4 linked regions of the Homo sapiens genome follow. The protein of the gene in region 1 interacts with the protein of each later gene in a biochemical or structural test. Each region holds a gene or a part of one and is shown in the gene's direction. Other genes may lie near its edges.

Region 1 (3,500 bases):
GTGGCTCACACCTGTAATCCTAGCACTTTGGGAGGCTGAGGCAGGTGGATCACCTGAGGTCAGGAGTTTGAGACCAGCCTGGTCAACGTGGTGAAACCCCATCTCTACTAAAAATATAAAAAATTTTAGCCAGGCATGGTGGCTTATGCCTGTAATCCGTGCTACTCGGGAGGCTGAGGCAGGAGAATTGTTGGAACCCGGGAGGTGGATGTTGCAGTGAGCCGAGGTTGCACCACTGTACTCCAGCCTGGGTAACAAAAGTGAAAACTCTGTCTCAAAAAAAAAGAAAAAGAAAAAAAAAAAGGGTGGTGGGACACCATTGAAGGCTTAAAACAGAAAGTGACAAGCAAAGATTCTTTTTCTAAATAAAAGGTTACCCTGGCTACTCTGTAGAGAATAGAGAGTCACAAAGAAGGGACCAGTAAGGAAGTGTTTGTCTCCCTTCTTGAGAAGGATCATCGCAGATAGGGCAGGATATGGCAGTGGACATAGAACGGGATAGTTGCAGGATGCATTTAAAAAGTAGAACCAGGCTGGGCATGGTGGCTCACGCCTGTAATCCCAGCACTTTGGGAGGCTGAAGTGGGCAGATCACCTGAGGTCAGGAGTTTGAGACCAGCCTGACCAACATGGAGAAATCCCGTCTCTACTAAAAATACAAAATTAGCCGGGCGTGGTGGTGCATGCCTGTAATCCCAGCTACTCAGAAGGCTGAGGCAGGAGAATCATTTGAACCCAGGAGGCGGAGGTTGTGGTGAGCCGAGATCATGCCACTGCATTCCAGCCTGGGCAACAGAGCAAAACTTTGTCTCAAAAAAAAAAAAAAAAAAAAGTAGAAGTAAAATTCACTAGAGAAGGAAAGGAAGAAGGAAGAGTATGGAGTACAGAACCCTAGGGCCTATGTAGGGGGCAAAAGAAGGAACCAGGGAAGGAAAATAAGGGAGCAAGAGTGGTCATTGATGTCAAAGGTAAGTCAGGCTACCACGCTTGCAGTGGGAGCCAGTGTGGGAGAAGGAGTCTGTAAGGGGAATTCAAGTGTATCCAGAGTAAGTGTGCTGTCTGATGTGTGGCAAGTCAATACCCAAGACCTGGGGGCGGGGTTTATTTGTTGGGCTGCAGAATGAGGAGATGAGAGGGAACTGCAAATCCGTCCTCCTGAGGAGTTTGGAGCTAGGGTTTTTAAGGATTTTGGAGTGGGCTGGAATGTGGAGATTGTTGGGTGGTCAGAGAGAGAAAGGTGAAGTAATGGGACCCGGAGATGAAAAAACTGTATTATGCTGATTTTATTTCTCTCTGAGGGTCTTCAAACTGGTTGGCATCAGCTGTTTTACCAGAATTTGGGATCTGAAAAATATCTCAAGCAATTCTTAAAAAAAAAGCCTTATGCTTCTAATGTCAGAGATACTATCTTTAGAAACAATAGGGATGCAAATGGTCAGTATCTAGCGCTGTGTGACTTTCAGTTACAAGGAAATGTGTCAAAATCCAGCCTGATTAATGTTTTTTTTTTGTTTGTTTGTTTGTTTGTTTTTTTTTGAGATGGAGTTTTGCTCTTGTGGCCCAGGCTGGAGTGCAATGGCATGATCTCGGCTCACTGCAACCTCTGCCTCCTGGGTTCAAGTGATTCTCCTGCCTCAGCCTCCTGAGTAGCTAGACTACAGGTGTGTGCCACCACACCTGGCTAATTTTGTATTTTTAGTAGAGATGGGTTTTCACCGTTTTGGCCAGGCTGGTCTCAAACTCCTGACCTCAGGTGATCCGCCCACCTTGGCCTCCCAAAGTGCTGGGATTACAGGTGAGCCATCGCACCTGGCCTAATGCTTAATTAAAGTTATATTTCTGTCCATAGTTCTTGGTAACCCTCTGAAGACAGCTTCATAATGAAGAATTTGGGTAGGTTTTGGGTGCATGGGGCTTCAGGGAGTCATGAAGGTTGAGGACATAGGAAAGAATCACACATTTATCCATCAGAAGATCATTGGTGACCATTGGCCGGGCGCTGTGGCTCACGCCTGTAATCCCAGCACTTTGGGAGGCCGAGGCAAGTGGATCACGAGGTCAGGAGATCGAGACCATCTTGGCTAACACGGTGAAACCCCGTGTCTACTAAAAATACAAAAAAATTGGCCAGGCGTGCTGGTGGGCACCCGTAGTCCCAGCTACTCAGGAGGCTGAGGCAGGAGAATGGCGTGAACCCGGGAGGTGGAGCTTGCAGTGAGCCAAAATCGCGCCACTGCACTCCAGCCTGGGCAACAAAGCAAGACTCAATCTCAAAAAAAAAAAAAAAGCTGTTGGATCGGTGTTTACTAAGCACCTACTCTAAGCCTGTCACTGTGTTAGTGTTAAGGATTTGTGTGAATGACCTCTTTTAGGTACTTCATTTTACAGATGAGAAAAATGACGCTTAGGGAATTAATCACCTTAACAGGTCACACAGAAAGAAGACTATGAGTTCTGTCTGACCCAGGCCCCATGCTCCTAAACCTTGCATGACACTGCTCTTTGGAAAGCCCTATCAGGACATCAGCTAGAGAGGAATGAAAGGTTTTTAGAGCCCAGTGATGGCTTACCCCAGCTGTATGAATTTGTTAGCAACCCAGTTAAATAAAGTCTTCTGATTTTTCTATAGTAATCTGGCAGTTTAGGAATGGAGAGGTGGGGGAGGGAGGGGAAGATAAAAGATAGAGTAAGAGTTCAGTAAATTAGAAAGGGGATTATTTTGTTGTTCATAAGTGTAATGATTGGATTTTCATGCACATGTATGAGATGTGCCTCCATCAAGCCTTGTTACTACAAAGTCAGTGCATTACCCATCTGATGTGGGAAAAATAAATCAGAAAGAGGCCTCAGCTTGTGGGAATGGTGGAATGCAATGGCTTGTGTTGTTAAGCAAAATTGTGTTTTACAGTAAATATTTATTGTGGTTCTTTTGATGCAAGTTATATTGGGATATGGAGGAAAATGCAAAAATGGATAAGATGGTGTATTTGACCTCTACACGGTTAGAGAGGAAGGTAAAGTGCTTCACTATAGTGCTTGATTGAAGGGTATGACAGGGGTGGAAGGTGGAGAAGTATGGGAAAGTATTATACAAGTTAGCTTGTAGAGCGAGGGTGGCATTAGGTAGGGCTGGCCAGGGTGGTGCCAATCTAGCTTCTCAGGATGACCCCTCAGGATTTTGGTCACTGTGTCGTCAGTCTAGTCTTGGGTCACAAAATGTATTTTGTGGAGAACCTGGAAATAATTAGTCTTGAAGACAGGATTGTATTCAGACTTGAGTGATTGAGCTCAGAATGGAATGCCAATTTATTATTTTAGAATGAAGGATTCCTTTTCCGTTAACGGGATTCTGGAATTTGTTAGGATAATTGCTTTTCAATATCAAGAGATCTGGCAATCAAATTTAATAATATCAAGCTTGCTTGGTGAGCATGGATTTATAAGATAGAATGGTTTGTGGGGGAGAATATAGTTACAAAAAAGATTATTGTTTCCCATAA
Region 2 (3,500 bases), on another chromosome or scaffold:
ACCCCGTCTCTACAAGAAATAAAAAAAATATAGCCCGGTGCGGTGGCATGTGCCTGTAATCCCAGCTACTCAGGTGGCTGAGGCAGGAGAATCCCTTGAGCCAGGAGGTAGAGGTTGCAGTGAGCCAAGATCGCGCCACTGCACTCCATCCTGGGGGACAGAGCAAGATGCTGTTTCACGCTATTTCATTAAAAAAAAAAAAGTTAGCTTTAATTATTAGATGATTTGTTACCTATCAGAAAAATACATAGATGCCTTTAGACACAATTTTACATTCTTACATTCTTATGTGTGCCTTCTTTTTTTTTTTCAAGATGGAGTCTCACTCTGTCGCCCAGGCTGGAGTGCAGTGGCGCAATCTGGGCTCACTGCAACTTCCGCCATCTGGGTTCAAGTGATTCTCCTGCCTCAGCCTCCTGAGTAGCTGGGACTACAGGCACGCAACCACGCCTGGCTACTTTTTTGTATTTTTAGTATAGACAGGGTTTCACCATATTGGCCAGGCCGGTCTCGATCTCCTCAGGTGATCCACCCGCCTCAGCCTCCCAAAGTGCTGGGATTACAGGCGTGAGCCACCGCACCCAGCTTTCCGCCCCGCCCCCCCGCCGAGATAGAGTCTTGCTCTGTTACCCAGGCTGGAGTGCAGTGGCGTGATCTCAGCTCACTGCAACCTCCACCTCCTGGGTTCAAGCGATTCTCCTGGCTCACTCAGCCTCCTGAGTAGCTGGGACTACAGGCGCATACCACCACACCCTGCTAATTTTGTATTATTGGTAGAGATGGGGTTTCACTATGTTGGCCAGGCTGATCTCGAACTCCTGATCTCAGGTGACCCGTCTGCCTCAGCCTTTCAAAGTGCTGGGGTTACAGGCATGAGCCACTGTGCCTGGCCTATAAGGCCATGTACATTCTTATTTCAGGGAGTTTCACAAAATTCCTGAAGCTCTACCCTAGACTCCACATTAGGAAACAAACAAACAAACAAAAAGCCTTTATACATGCTGTTAACTATGAGCTATTAAACCATATTTCTAGCAGGGGAAGCTACCTCAGCCCTAGATTTGAGACTTGGTTCTGCCACATACCTGTTATATGAACTTAGACAAGCAACTTAACCCATGTGAGTCTTAGCTTCCTGTACTGTAAAATTGGGATTAGACTTGTTATGAAGGTTAAATGCACTGATGCATGTAAGCCTGGGCACAGTGCCTGGCACATAGTAAGAACTCAGAAAATCCTGGCTATTGATGATGAATGGCATCTAGGCTTTAAAACAGTAGGGGTGGGGTGATGATTGCTTCATCTGGGTAACTACATTCCACCCAGGCCCTGAGGTCAAACTACAGTCCAAGGTCCCAAAGGGCTGGGGAGCAGAGGGTAGAAATAGAGGCTTGAGCAGGGGTGGAGTAAACTTGGCTGCTTCTGCTGACCAGCCCATGCAGGCTCTGGAGGTCCTCCTGCTGCTACGGATTGTCTCTGAGAGACTGAAGGACCACTCGAAGGCAGCTGGCTCCTCCTGCCACATCACCCAGCTCCTCCTGACCCTCGGCTGTCCCAGCTATGCCCAGGTGAGTGCCCAACCAGCCTAGTCTGGGGACTGCAGGGGGCCCGTAGCTTTAGAGGCCCACCTCTGAGAAGACAGGATATCAAAGGGGCAGCTTCTCGGCCTTTTACCACCACAACTGGCTGGAGAATTGTGGAGTGTGGAGCAGTTGGAGGCAGCTGTAAGAAGGGGAGTCATCTTTGTCCTTCCTGCAAAACCAGTTGTTCATTAAGTTTACAGACTGCTGCAGGAACCTACCGCCAGTCTTGTATTTCCTAACTGGTTCTGTTGCCCTAGTTGATGCTTCATTGCTCATGTAAAGCTATCACAGTGTCTCCTGGTTGGTCTCCTTGCCTCCAGTTTCTCCCTTTTCTACTTCGTCTTCTTAACGACCACTGGTAGGCACAGGTGTGATGTAATCTCTTTCCTGCTTAACCCTGTTCCCTTTTGCCCCAATAATACTTGCCAGCGCTTACGGCTGCAGTGTTTACCCCTGGATAACTTTGCCACAAAATATCTCACTCTTACTATTTTTGCATCACTCTAGTATATTGACTTTGGAAACAGAAGACATCATTCTGTTTATAGCATTCTGTTTTTAGTGGTGTCATTTCCATTTCCATTTCCATTTCCACTTCCACGTCACCCTCCCGAGTAACTGGGACTACAGGTACATGCCACCACACCTGGCTAATTTTTAAATGTTTTGTAGAGACAGAGTCTCACTATGTTGCCCAGGCTGGTCTTGAACTCCTGGGCTCAAGTGATCTCCCACCTCAGCCTCCCAAAGTACTGATAATACAGGCATGAGCCACCGTGCCCAGCTACTGCTTACTCTGTATATAGCTTTAATCTAAAAGTGGTTAACCAGGCTGAGCGCAGTGGCTCACACGTGTAATCCCAGCATTTTGGGAGGCTGAGGTGGGCAGATCACCTGAGGTCAGGAGTTGGAGACCAGCCTGACCAACATGGAGAAACCCCGTCTCTACTAAAAATACAAAATTAGCCAGGTATGGTGGCGCATGCCCGTAATCCCAGCTACCTGGGAGGCTGAGACAGGAGAGCACTTGATCCCGGGAGGCGGAGGTTGCGGTGAGCTGAGATCACACCATTGCACTCCAGCCTGGGCAACAAGAGCGAAACTCCGTCCTAAAAAAAAAAAAGTGGTTAACCAAGTGTTAAATGGACATTTTAGAGAGTGAATCAATAACTCCTATGCAGATTATAATATCTGAAATAATGTAATATTTATTGGACATGTTGAACATTTTGCTTGTAAATACTTTACTCCACTTTTTTTTTTTTTTTTTTTTTGAGACGGAGTCTCACTCTGTTGCCCAGGCTGGAGTGCAGTGGCGCGATCTCCATTCACTGCAACCTCTGCCTCTCGGGTTCAAGTGATTCTCATGCCTCAGCCTCCCGAGTAGCTGGGATTACAGGCGCGTGCCACCACACCTGGCTAATTTTTGTATTTTTAGTAGAGATGGGGGTGTCACCATGTTGGCCAGGCTGGTCTTGAACTCCTGACCTCAGGTGATCCGCCCACCTTGGCCTCCCAAAGTGCTGGGATTACAGGTGTGAGCCACATGGCCACCCTTATTTACTCCAGTTTTGTTTGAAGAGCCTGGCTGCCTTTCCTCATGTGCCCTCTGATTGCTTCCTTAGTTACACCTGGAAGAGGCAGCATCGAGCCTGAAGCATCTCGATCAGACTACTGACACATACCTGCTCCTTTCCCTGACCTGTGATCTGCTTCGAAGTCAACTCTACTGGACTCACCAGAAGGTATTTCTCACTTTCTTAAACTCCGAAGGCCCTGGGTATTAGAAAGAATTTAGGATTTTCTTGATATTTGCCTGGCTTTTGAGATTTCCCTGGAGCTAGGCAGTATGTTCCTGACCCTGAGAGGCAGGCATATTTCCTAGCCTTGCCCTCGCCAGCGATTTGCTCACCAGTC
Region 3 (3,500 bases), on another chromosome or scaffold:
ACTTTATCAGTGCCTGAGAATGTTCAAGGCCCCAGTTTGGGTCCAAACCTATGGTGGAAAACATGCAGCTGGCTAGGTCACAGAGCGGGACAAGGCACTCTGTTTTTCTATTGGGACACAGAAAGAAAGCAGGGAGAACTGGGGACCCTACAACTGCCCACTCAACTGTAGAATTCTAGTCACACAGTTCAAGAAATTTTTCAATTTTCAATTAGTAATATGTGAGTTTCCCCAGTAAAAATTTGTGCATTCTAAAAGTAATTATTTTTGGCCTTTTTAGGGGGAGTACTGTAAATCAAGAAAAAGTTTTTGTATGTTAAAAGGGAAAATGCCTCATGTTTTTGGGAAAAATGAATAGTTCCAGGTTACAGTAGAAAAATAGCAGTATAGAAATATAGTAAGAATGTAAAATTCTGTACTTTTCGAACATCATGGTTAAATGATAATTCTTTCCCTTTCCTGCTTTATGCAGTTAATATTTATTTTCTACTAATTAATAAACATTGTCTTTTAATGTCCTGAATGTCCATCGAGATTACAACTGTTTATGAAGAGATTCTAATACCATGTTTTTTGTAATGTAGGTGAAAAATGTGGTATACTTACCTATGTATAATAGTGCAAGCAGCCATTTCCAAAAACGACTTCCTATAGGCAAGAGGACTTCTCTTTATTTTCTGAATGTTTTACAGTGAACATATTGGTTTTGTACTTAATAACATCCCGCCTTTTTTTTTTTTTTTTGAGACAGTGTCTCTCTTTGTCACCCAGGCTGGAGTACAGTGGCGTGATCTCAGCTGACTATAGCCTCTGCCTCCCGGGTTCAAGTGATTCTCCTGCCTCAGCCTCCTGAGTAGCTGGGAATACAGGCATGCGCCACCACGCCTGGCTGGTTTTTGTAGTGTTAGCAGAGATGGGGTTTCACCATGGGGATGGTCAGGCCAGTCTCGAACTCCTGACCTTGTGATTGCCCACCTCGGCCTTCCAAAGTGCTGGGATTACAGGCATGAGCCACCGCGCCCAGCCAACATCCTGCCCTTTTAAAAAATTTCCTTTTATTAAACAAATTAAGTTCATGTATAGTCTCAATAAAGCGTTTGCAAATCCATTATATGCTCCTTGACCAAAATACAGATTACATGTGCACTTAGAAAGAATTTTTTTTCTTCTAATAGAGTAATCTAAAAGTCTAACCTTCTCCATTTTTAAAAGCTTTAGCCAATTATTTAGTAAGCATTGGTTTGAAATACATTCATGACATTTCATAGAGGAGTTATTTCTTCTCTGGTATCTGTGAAGGTTTCTTTATATCTATTACATCAAATAGTAAGACTTCAAATTATTGCCGCTATGAAGATACATCAGTATTTTAATGAACTGGCCAGGTTTTTTCCCTTAATAAGCAATGAGTAAAATAATTTATTTTGAAAACTCACTACATTTATCTCTTTCTTTAATACGGAAGAATAATGCCCTGCACACCTGCCTTAGACTAACTTGAATCTTTGTTATACATCAACCATAAAGAGTTATGTTATTTTGGGCTGGGCACGGTGGCTCATGCCTGTAATCGCAGCACTTTGGGAGGCTGAGGCGGGCGAATCAGTTGGGGTCAGGAGTTCAAGACCAGCCTGGCCAACATGGTAAAACCCCGCGTCTGCTAAAAGTACAAAAATTAGCTGGGCATGGTGGTGCGCGCCTGTAATCCTACTCGGGAGGTTGACACAAGAGAATCGCTTGAACCGCATCCCCCACCCCCCTCTGGGAGGCGGAGGTTGCAGTGTGCTGAGATCGAGCCACTGCAGTCCGGCTTCTGCCACAGGGTGAGACTCTGTCTCAAAAAACAAACCAAAAAAAAAGAAAAGAAAAGAAAGGAAAAAAAGTTATGTTATTTTGAAGAAATTAAATTTTCAAAATGATTAACATGCAGTGTACCTCAAACTAGGCCCCAGATAATTAAGCATCATGGAAAAAATGCATAGTCATGAACATTAAGAAGTCAGGAATTTGGAATAAAGGAACTGTATCATTTATTCTCTCCTTCCCACTTTTTTATTGCTTTGCAAAAAGCAGACACTTTTCCTTGTCTTACTGATGTACAAACCTTGCTTCGTTGCAAAATATTCTGAAAAGTCCTTTCAGATCTCCAAAATCTTATTACCTATTTAATGCTTTAATTTGAAGTGAGATATATATGATGGGTTTTTTCATAGTGTGAACATTAGTTTTATTTCGAATAACTATATTTTCTTGTCTATAGCTATGCATAACTTGTGATTCAAAAAACATCACTTAATAACTTTACTATTTAAAATGTCTGTATTAAATCATTGGCTAGGAAATTGGTGCTCTTTTATTTCTTTTTCTATTTTACAGGGTCATCCTAAAGTATGTGAAAAATTAAAGGCTCTTATGGTTGAATGGACAGATGAATTTAAGAATGATCCACAGCTTAGTCTAATATCAGCAATGATTAAGAACCTTAAGGAACAAGGAGTTACGTTCCCAGCTATTGGCTCTCAGGTATTTTGGGAATGAAGTTGTGTGTGTGCTACAGTTTGTTTCTCTTAAATAGCTATATTTATTTGAATTTTTTTCTTCATTCCCAGGTAATTTTTACTACTTCAGAGGAATTTTCGTTAGCTAATTGTGTTAGTAACTAGTTGTATTGCTAGTTAGTAATACTAGTTTTCTGGCATTCAGAGGTGCCAGAAAAGTATTATAATGGAATATTAATGTGCTCTAACCTCTCTACTTCTTTATAAACGAATTGGTTTAACATTTTGCAGTTTTTGAAATTTTTTGGTATAGTTTTTGTTTGTTTGTTTTTGAGACGGAGTCTTTGTTTGTCGCCCTGGGTAGAGTGCAGTAGCGTGATCTCGGCTCACTGCCACCTCTGCCTCCTGGGTTCAGGTGATTCTCCTGCCGCAGCCTCCTGAGTAGCTGGGACTACATGCACGTGCAGCCAGACCTGGAAATTTTTTTTTTTTTTAAATAGAGGTGGGTTTCACCATGTTGGCCAGGCTGGTTTCGAACTCCTGACCTCAGGTGTTCTGCCCGCCTCGGCCTCCCAAAGTGCTAGGATTACAGGTGTGAGCCACCAGGCCCAGCCAGTACAGTTTTAATAATATACACAAAATAGCTTTATTAATTAGGTAACACTGTCTTTTTAAATGCTCTTAATGCTATAATTTTCTACAAAGAATGATAGCTCAGAAATCAGGATATCCTTAAAAGTTAGGGATGACTTGAGAGATTCTTTTGTGGAGGAAATTTATGAATTCCTCTATTAACAATGAGAGGACTTTAGAAGGGGTAAATGGGAAGAGAAGCACCTGAAGCATTTTCTCCTTAGTAAGAGCCGACCAGTACATAAGTCTTCCTTTCCCCAGTGGATATGGCTAAATAGCTTAACTTTGCTCTCCTGTCCACCCTTGTGCCAAAAAAATTCAGTCTCTAATTTATGTCATGTAGAAAAAAATCAAGAAATGTCTTTTTTA
Region 4 (3,997 bases), on another chromosome or scaffold:
GAAACCCCCCGAAAACAAATGGGGGTCAGGGGCGGAGGCAGGTAACACAGCCCCTGTAGTCACATGCAGAGTGAATTCGAAACCAGCTCTGGAGTCACACTGCCTGGGACTGAATCCCACTTCAGTGCTATGTGACTAAGGCAAGGAACGTAAACTCTCTGTACATGTTTCCTCATCTGTGAAACAGGGATAATAATAACAGGACCTACCCCCTTAAACCAGTTGTGAGGAAATTAAGTAAGATAATTCTGTATATGTGGAGAGTTCAGGATAGCGCCTGATACATAGTAGGTGTTCTGCATAACTGTGTAAATAACTGTAAAAAATTACCTGCTATTGTTACTGCTCCTTGAGCCTCCATTGACCTCACACTCCCTGCCCAGGACATGATACATGCTTGGAAGACTCAGATGTCTGTATGCCCAGAGCCTAGCCCAGTACCTGGGACTTACGTAGTAAGAGTGGGGCGCGGGGGGCGGGGGCGGGGGGCAGCAGCAGGAAGGGGAATTGCTCAATACACGCTCCTGGAAATATTAATTTTTTGAAGTGGATGCATGCAATGCACTGAGCCCCCCTCCCCTACAAACTCTCCCTCCCACACCCAAGCAGCTCCTCCAGGACTCAAGGGCTGGTGAATGAATCTTTGAATGATAAATATTCCTATTTTGATGTCCATTAATAATGAGCTTGTAGGCAAGATGAGTCATCTAGACCTGGTTCACGGATATCCCTACAATTCCAGAGCCACAGAGTCAACGATCCTGGACATTCATTCATTCAACAAACATTAACTGGGTGCGTGGCAACCTACTGATTCATGAGTTGGAAGAGGATAAAATATTATATAGAAGCCATACTTAATGTTATTGGACACGTGTTCCCTAAGCGCCTATCCTCTGATCTTGTGCAAACTATACTTATGTGACCTTGTTTATGAATTAATGACGGCCAGCTAATCCTTCAGAAGACTCCAATTTTAGGTTTGCGCAAAAGCCCTTCAGCCTTTACAAACGAGGACCTGTCTTTCTGGGTTGAGCTAACTCCTCTGCTAGTTAAAAGCTTTCCTGTGTCTTTAAAAGGGGGAGGCATCCTATCAAATGGACCCTAACGCATAGGCTGAAGGCACGTGAAGTCCCACCCACTTTCTATGACGTCCCGCGTCCCGGCTTCTGATTGCCCGCCTGAGACGTCAATCGCAGGGCGTGTGTCTTGCTGGGACACAGTGGAGGTCTAACCTTTGGTTTGCGGAGCGGTCGGGTGTATTCTCCGCCGCCCCCACGCCCTCGAGGTCCCCGCCACCGAACCAGCGGCGGAGCCCGCCCGCGCCTCCCGCGGCATTCCCGCACCGGATCGCTCCTCGCTGGGGCGGGACCTGGCCTGGCGGCTCTGGTCACTATGGTCAGTGATCGTGGGGGATCGCGAAGGGGGAGCGGGCAGGGGGCGCGGTGGGCGGGGTCGCTGCCGGAGCGGGTGCACCCGCGGGACGGGGGTCGGACGCGAGGCTCAGCCCCCAGCTCGCCCCCGCCGCTTTCCGACCCCCTGAAATACGGAGTCCGGACGGATACTGAGGGCCAAGTCGCGCCCCCCTGTACCCCGTGGATGTGCAGCTGAGGAGGTCCAGCTCGGCCCCGAGCCCCCGCCCCCAGCGTGTCCGCCCCAGGTGGCCCGGGGCGCCGCCTCGACGGCGCTGGGTGGGCGCCCTCGACGGAAGCAGGGACAGGGAGGCTGCAGCACTACGGGTCGCCTCCTCTTTGTTAAGTAGCCCCCCAGTCAGCAGTCCACGGCCCCACCCACCCGACGGCTCGGCCGTCAAAGACCTCCTGGCCCCTGCCCCAACCCCAAGGGAGGATCTAGGGGTTGCACGGGGCACCAGGTCGTCTGCTCCGTGGGCGACTAGACCGTCTCCATCTTTGGAGTCAGGACCCACCTAGAGAGGATGCCTCAAGTTGTGAGGCGCATGAGTTAGGGGTCGGGGAAAAGAAAATACTCAGGAATCCCTGATGGAGAGCCTTGTCTGCGCAGAACGAGGCCCAGAGACCCTCTGAGCCAGGCTAACCCTGGGCTTGGGCAGGTGGGGAAACTGAGGCCAGACAGGGCAGGGCTGGTACTGATTGTGGTGGACCTGGGGCTTGAACCCAGGCTCTGGACTCTCAGTTCAGTGCTCTTTGTGTTACATCGGCTCACCTTCCAGGTTGCCGTGGGGTCAGGCATCCTGCAGGGGACTGGGTGGCATGGCTGCCTAAGACCCTTCAACCCTGAGCAGGGGGAGCCTGTGGAGTGAGGGCTGGGTGGCTTGAGTCGGGGCCACACAGCCCCAGGTTCAAGTCTCACTTCCACCTGTTGGAAAGCGAAGAGGCTTTGGTTGGTCCGCTCTCCCCCTCAGCACCGTTTTGCACATCTGTGTCATGGGAACCATGTGATATGATTAGCTGGAGCTTTTCCTGTGACAACAGAGTCCTGGAAATGGGTGTGCACAGATGCCTGGTTCTTCAAGCTTAGCCTCCTCTCTCCTATGACTGGGCAGGAAAATGGGTCACCACGGCAGCATGCTGCCGGGCTGGGGCATGGGTCAAAGCCTGGTCATGGCCTGGCACGATCTGGGTGTGGCATAGGCAGCCAGGGCACTCGAGCTGGGACTGTCCTTGCCAAGCCAGCCTGCTGCCTGGGGCATAGCTGGGGGCCTCTGGAGCATCTGGAAGCACCAGCTTCCTGCTTCCACTTGGTGCCCAAGGGTTTACCTGGTTGAGCTGCTCCTGGAAGGCAGCCCAGGTGTTTCTGCATCACCCACCAGGGAGTGGTGGAGCTGGGGTAATGATGGGCTTAGCCACCCGGGAGCTGGAGGCTGGCATGCCCTCTGGCCACCACTCGGCAGCTGAGAGCACAGCAGAGGCGGTAGCTGCTCTTTGTGCCATGCAGTGAGGCCGCTCACTCTGCTCCCTATCTGCCCTGACTCAGGAGACTGGAAGTTAGATGGCAGATGGGGTCCAAAGCCCTCACCCCTCACCGGGGGCTTGGGTGCCTTGGCGAAGGATGAAGTGGTTAACCCACTAAAATATGACGTCTGTCTGGTAATCACAGGGGTGGAGGCCATGCAGGGTCTTTTCCCTTCCCTGCACATGGCATTTATTGAGCACCTACTGCATGCGGGGACCATACTGGGCCCTGTGCTGCATGGTGGGTTTTTATGTTGAACTTGCATTGTGTGGATGGTGGTGACAGAAGGAATATCCTTGGAAAATACAGCATCTTCTTTACTTTCCTGTTTCTACATCACTGGGCTAAGCTTGAGGAAGGGCGCCCCGTGGAAGACACAAAGACACTTGGGAAGGTAGGGGTGAGACAAGGACCAGACCTCTGGCAGGGACTGCAAATAGCTAGGGTTCTCGTGCACTCAAGGTGCATTTCATGTTTGACGAATGAATGAGTCAGACATAAGCAGGAAAACCGCAGGGTCCTATTGTGCTTTGTTCTGTTATTTGTCAAACAGGCCCCCAGTGGGCACCTTTGTCAGGCCTGTGCTGGGCACTGTGACACTGATGAGAAAGACAAGGTGCCTGCCCGCTGTAGGAGCTCACTGCCTGCTGGCCAAGACAGCTGGACACAAGCAGTGTCTGAGCTACAGGTCATGCCTAAGAGGCCTAAGGACATTGGGAACACAGTGAGAGGTCAATATGCTCTGAGGGAGTGGGGGTGTTGGAAGGTTCTGCAGAGGAGGTCTTTTGAGCTGAGTTGAAGGATGTATATGAGTGTTCAAGAAGGATTTGGGAAGGGCACATTCCTTTTGGCGGGTGCGGGGGGACAGTGGGCTATCAGGCCTTGAAGCATGGTCAAGAATAGGGGATTTTGGCAAAGGTGAACAGCCTCTGAAGATGCAAGGAGATTGAGGGAGGCAGGGAAATTGAGTCTAGAAAATTTGGTGGGGTCAGGATGTTCTGTGCAGGGCCTCACTTGCTGTGCTGTGGGGTTTGGGTTTTATTCCACCAATGAGGGGGAAACC

What was found. The genes of interacting proteins can lie anywhere in the genome.
Region 2: of the proteins of RFFL (region 1) and ESPL1, one has a biochemical effect on the other in vitro, tested with the Homo sapiens proteins (one large-scale study listed by BioGRID).
Region 3: of the proteins of RFFL (region 1) and STAM, one has a biochemical effect on the other in vitro, tested with the Homo sapiens proteins (one large-scale study listed by BioGRID).
Region 4: of the proteins of RFFL (region 1) and OTUB2, one has a biochemical effect on the other in vitro, tested with the Homo sapiens proteins (one large-scale study listed by BioGRID).

Annotation. Positions count from the first base shown.
Region 1 is NC_000017.11:35,053,708-35,057,207, reverse strand, and holds part of RFFL (E3 ubiquitin-protein ligase rififylin), read left to right. Parts: intron 1-2,713; exon of another isoform or gene 2,714-2,820; intron 2,821-3,500.
Region 2 is NC_000012.12:53,278,299-53,281,798, forward strand, and holds part of ESPL1 (separin), read left to right. Parts: intron 1-1,433; coding exon 1,434-1,568; intron 1,569-3,208; coding exon 3,209-3,328; intron 3,329-3,500. UniProt on the Homo sapiens protein: Caspase-like protease, which plays a central role in the chromosome segregation by cleaving the SCC1/RAD21 subunit of the cohesin complex at the onset of anaphase. During most of the cell cycle, it is inactivated by different mechanisms.
Region 3 is NC_000010.11:17,685,651-17,689,150, forward strand, and holds part of STAM (signal transducing adapter molecule 1), read left to right. Parts: intron 1-2,376; coding exon 2,377-2,523; intron 2,524-3,500. UniProt on the Homo sapiens protein: Involved in intracellular signal transduction mediated by cytokines and growth factors. Upon IL-2 and GM-CSL stimulation, it plays a role in signaling leading to DNA synthesis and MYC induction. May also play a role in T-cell development.
Region 4 is NC_000014.9:94,025,143-94,029,139, forward strand, and holds the start of OTUB2 (ubiquitin thioesterase OTUB2), read left to right. Parts: upstream 1-1,197; 5' UTR 1,198-1,395; coding exon 1,396-1,398; intron 1,399-3,997. UniProt on the Homo sapiens protein: Hydrolase that can remove conjugated ubiquitin from proteins in vitro and may therefore play an important regulatory role at the level of protein turnover by preventing degradation.